Linked DNA regions of Homo sapiens: region 2 is linked to region 1. A link means that fine-mapping ties the variant in region 1 to the expression of a gene that starts in the linked region. Tissue or cell type: whole blood. Region 1 holds a variant in brackets; the other region holds the start of a gene. All regions are shown on one strand. Distances are from middle to middle.

Region 1 (2,610 bases):
ACACTGTCTATGGCTGCCAGTGACCCTGCCGGGCCCCCCACCTTGCTGGCGGGCCCTGGATGGAAGGCAGGAAGAGGGCTCAGGAGCTTGGAGCACCATCTTCAAGTGAGCCCTGCTGTGACGCAGGCTCTCTGCACAGCTCTGGGAGCCACAGGACCCACCTGATGAAGGTCACCTGGAGAGCACTTAGCTTCCCCGGGTGGGGTGGCTCCGCTCTGTCACTGAGCTGAGTGTTGTGACCTCGGGCTGGTCACCTCTTCTCAGCAGGAAAGCGAGGGTCAGAATGGGTGACAGTGGTTCCCTGAAGTTTTAAGATTCAGGTTCTGCTCACAAGTGTGACAGATTCTGAGCTTTTCCAGGGAAGGGGTCGCATCTACCTGTTGTCACCCCTTCGCCATTCCTGGGACAGAGCTGGGCTCTGTGTGCTGAATGCCCAGTACACATCATATGAGCAGGTTAATGGGTGGGGCCCGGCTGGCCGAGGCATCCCTTCCCCATGCTGTGTGGACATGGATGATGAGGAGGCTGCGGGAAGTCACTTTGAAGGAGGCCACCCTCTTGGGAGTCCCCAGGGGTGGAGCCTCTGGCCCAGAAAGGCTGAGCTCATTCCCTACAGTACCCAGCAGGCCAGCCCACCAGAGCAGAAGTGGAGTCTAGGGGCCACGCACAGTGGCTCACGCCTGTAATCCCAGCACTTTGAGAGGCTGAGGCGGGCAGATCACCTGAGGTCAGGAGTTTAAGACCAATCTGGCCAACATGGTGAAACCCCCTCACTAGTAAAAACATAAAAATTAGCCCGGTGTGGTTGTGTGCACCTGTAATCCCAGCTACTTGGGAGGCTGAGGCAGGAGAATCTCTTGAACCCGGGAGGTGGAGGTTGCAGTGAGCTGAGGTTGGGTCACTGCACTGCAGCCTGGGTGACAAGAGCGAGACTCTGTCTCAAAAAAAACCAAGTGGAGTCTGGGGACCAGGTAGGGGCGTGGGTGGTTAGGTGGTCAGCAGCGGGACTCTCGAAGTGACTGGGAGCGGGAAACAAGAAGGTGCCCTCCACATAGAGCGGACAGGGGCTGGAGGCAAGGGCCTGGAGCCACTGGCCCAGCCCTTTGCGTTTGAGAGTTAGCATATTTTAAAACTTGGGTTTGATGATGCTGTGTGTCTTCCCTGGGACTCTTGTTTTTGTTCTTGTTTACAGTTTGTAAAGTCTTTCATGTTTTAAAAGTCCCACCCAGGCTCAGGCATACTGAAGAAACTTGTTCTTGGTTCCTGAAGAGAC[G/C]CCCCAAGAGGCACAGAGCCGGGGCCTCTCTCAGCTTCCCCGTTTTCTCTTCTCCAGCCCTCAAGCTGCTCCTGACTCAACCTTTTTCCAACTCCACAAAGCTGCCACCTAGGGGAGAGGGCTGTGGAGCCTCAGCTTCCCAAACCACCCTTCTTACCTTCATCCAGGTGTTCATCGGGCGGTGGAGGAGTAAGGTGGTTGAAGACAACCTTGGGTAGAAAACACACACTTGAGTTATTTCAGTCCCTGCTGCGTGGGTGGGGCCTGGGGGTTGAGACTGCTGAGCCGGGCAGCCAGGGTATCTCCAGGGACCTACTGAAGGAGGAGAGGCAGCTGCCTGTGGGGGCTGCTCAGGGACATTCTGTACCCAGGGACCAGCACTACCCTCAGACAGACCCCCGCCCTCTGCTGCCTTTGCCCTGACCGCGCTGGGGGATGCCCCAATGTGGATATGAGACAGCTGTGGACAATGAGGGAAAGCCCAACCACTTGGGCTTAACATCCTGGCTCTACCATTACAAGATCAAACTGCAAACGGGTATTTGTTGACAAGAAAAAATATTTAAAAAGCATATTTCCCCAAAACTCGACAAACATATTTGTAGGTATATATCCTGTAGAGAAACTTCTGTGTATGTGTACAAGAGTGTACAAGGGAATGTGTACAAGAGGGCTCCTAGCAAAAATCATAATACATAAACAATTTTTTTTTGAGATGGAGTCTCGCTCTGTTGCCCAGGCTGGAGTGCAGTGGCGTAATCTCGGATCACTGCAACCTCCGCCTCCTCAGTTCAAGCAATTCTCGTGCCTCAGCCTCCCAAGTAGCTGAGATTACAGGTGCCCGCCATCACGCCCAGCTAATTTTTGTATTTTTAGTAGATACAGGTTTTCGCCATGTTGGCCAGGCTGATCTTGAACTCCTGGCCTCAAGTGATCCTCCCACCTCGGCCTCCCAAAGTGCTGGGATTACAGGCGTGAGCCATCATGCCCGACCGATACATAAACAATTTTAAAACGTGGAACTAACCCTCATGACAGAAGAATAAACAAATTACAGTATACTCAGGCAATAAAATTAATGAGCAACAGCCACGTGCATCAACGTCGATATGTTTCACATGCGTAACACGGAGCCACAACCCCAGTCTCAGAAGCATATGCGCTGTTTGATGTAGTTGATTTAAAGTTTACAACATGAATAATGAAACTAAATATCGTTTAGGGGTAATACATATGTGATAATATTAAAAAGCAAAGCTAAGGAATGATAAACAGATTCTGGGTATTGGGGCCTGGGGTGAAGGGTACAAACAGGGGAGGGAGGAGGGAGATTCAAA
Region 2 (2,500 bases), 52 kb after region 1:
TTCCACTAATGACCTTTGCGGTGTTGCTTTAGGATCCAATACAGGATGCGAATTCTGGGTTTGGGTGTCCTGACCATCATGTCTCCTCTGATCTGTGACGCTTTGCCTGTCTTTCTTTGTTTTTCATGACCTTGACATTTTTGAAGGTGAAATATGTTGTGGAATCTTCCCCAGTTTGGATTTGTCTGATGTTTTCTCATGATTTGACTGGGGTTATGAGTTGGTGGGAAGAACCGCACTGTCGTGGCAGTTCACAATAGCAGCCCAGCTTATTCCCGGTGATGCTAAGCTTGGTCCCTTGGTGAAGCTGGCATCTGCAGGTTTCTCCTCTACAGAGCTACTATTTCTCCCTTTCCATACTCTTAGTCCAAACCTCACTCAAGGTGAGGGGAATTAAGTCCCACTCTCCCGAGGGAGGAGGATATGCACATATCACAGCAATTTCTTCTGTTACTGCAAACGCACAATTCCTTAGTTCCTTGGTAATGTGGGTGGATGAGGGTGAACTTCATCCACCCGCATTACCAGATAAATGGAAACGTTGTCAAAACCTTACAATTTACACAAATCCTTTCAAAATATGTGATCAACTATGCTTTCCTTTTCACAGTTGGTGTTTCCTGGTGAAATAGATCTCTTAAACAAGAAGATCATCATTACATCTATTCAGTTACCCCATTCCTGAATGCCTGAAAAATGGAACAACTTCATTCAGAAACAAACAAATAAAACGAAAGCAACAGTCATTTGCCTTGAGCCAGATGCTCCCCGCCTGTGACCACTAACCTCTGTCAGCTCTGCACAGTCAATATCACCTCCTATCAAGAGGCCGAGTGACTCGCCGGGAGCGCAGCAGTGGCCTGTGTGTGCCCGCTCAACCCCCTCTCTACATCCCACGTCCCTTCTCTCCTCTGTGGCACATTCACTGCCTTTTCCAAAAAGCAGAATCTACCCTGGATGGATGACCTTTTATAAATTAAAAATTCTCAAAACTGGAAATGCACAAACCATGGAGCAATCTATTCATAGCTGAGGCAGCGATCCATTCATGCCTCTTCCTCCGTCTGTGGCACCCACAGCAATGTCCTTGCTTGCTTGCCCCACTACAGGCCTTACAGCACCATTTGCACAATTTAAAGGAAGACGATAAAGAACCCGGAAGACGCAGGGCCTCACCTTGGCAATGCTTCAGTGGTGTTTCACCATAGCTCTTCAGATCCTGACACCCTTACAGTGGAGCAGGCTCCTAGCGACAACGAGCAACTTCCAACACCATCCTAAAGCAAAAGCCAGTCCCAGATGAATTCTTCTCATCTCAATCAGTTTTCATGGCTTGTGGCTTTCTGCCGGCAGCAGACAGAGGTGGCAGCACCCCCGGTCTGCGATCAGAGCCTCCCCAGTCCCCAGTGAGCAAGTGCAACAGGGGCCCCGCCCTCCAGCCGAGCCCTTCTGAAGCTCCTGTGGGCTCCCTGGGTTTGGGGGTATCCCTCTGCTCCAGGAAAACTCGTGAGGAAGGACCATGAGCAGCTGCCCTGTCCCTGGCCCTGGGCAACGTGGGTCACAATGCCCTTCTGTCACCAGAAAGTTTTCTCCTGGGGTTTTGGTTTAACAGCACGGCTGGTATTTTTTCTGCACCAAGTCCGGCAGAGTTAGCAAACCTCCATGCTGACTCTACAAGGTAATTTGCCCTGCCGTGTGGACAAACGCTGCAGATCTCATGGAGAGGGCTTGGGCTCTGCCATGTGCCATCTGTGTGCACCAGGGCAGCCGTTCTTTCAGCCTCACTGGTTTTGCTTTGTCTTTAAATGATGCTAATAATAGCTAGCTCACAGGATACTATCAGCATTAAATGGTAGAATGGGTATGAATGGTGGGCATAGAATTGGTGTTTGGTAAAAGCTAATTTCCCATGTGTTTTACAGTACCCTAGCCAGTAGTTAGTTGACTTGGATCTCAGAGCCTCTTCAATGGTGGAAATTTGCTTGGCTATGAAAACTCAGAGGAGTAGAGAACAAGAATAATGGAGGTAACGGGAGAAGGATCCCAACATCTAGAGTGGTGAGTGGTGTCTGGAGTGGTGGGTGGCATCCTGTACACAGCAGTCAAAGGACCAATGGGACCAAGAAGGCTTCTGTGATGACGTCAGAGTCTTGCTGGTCCAGCCAGACACAGTGAGCCACTGGTCAGCTGGTTCCTTTCCACTAGTGTCTTGATATTGGCTTATAAGAGGAAGTCACTCGGTGGGCTCTCTCTTCTCCCTTCATAGTCTTGGATCCTTGAGAGTGGGTGTGGGAGGCAGACAGGGTAGCTTCTACCCCATGGTCCAGAATGTCAGCTTTCTCAAGGAGTTCATTTCCTTGGATTGGACTGAGACAATACTGAGCTATGAGTTGCAGGTTTGACAGGTGTTCATGTCAATAGACGCAGCAACGCAGAGTTCTGGGGTTTTAAGACACTATGGAAATAATCTGTTTCACTTCCCCAAGGGGTTTTGTGAGAA

Evidence for each region. PIP is the estimated chance that this variant, and not a neighbour inherited with it, causes the effect.
Region 2: BLK starts here. The variant in region 1 is fine-mapped to the expression of BLK in whole blood (TOPMed, PIP above 0.99).

The regions. Positions count from the first base shown.
Region 1 is chr8:11,544,924-11,547,533 of GRCh38, reverse strand. BLK (BLK proto-oncogene, Src family tyrosine kinase) reads right to left here. Exons shown (of 13, transcript NM_001715.3): 3 at 1,431-1,482. Among named protein-coding and RNA genes, the nearest start is that of BLK-AS1, 12 kb to the left of the region's middle. RefSeq lists enhancers at 827-876, 1,247-1,406 and a silencer at 997-1,046. The variant G/C (reference allele first, on the strand shown) is at 1,274.
Region 2 is chr8:11,493,268-11,495,767 of GRCh38, reverse strand. It overlaps BLK (BLK proto-oncogene, Src family tyrosine kinase), which reads right to left and starts at 1,381. Exons shown (of 13, transcript NM_001715.3): 1 at 1,177-1,381. RefSeq lists enhancers at 1,070-1,159, 1,170-1,359, 249-1,448 and a cis regulatory region at 1,068-2,500.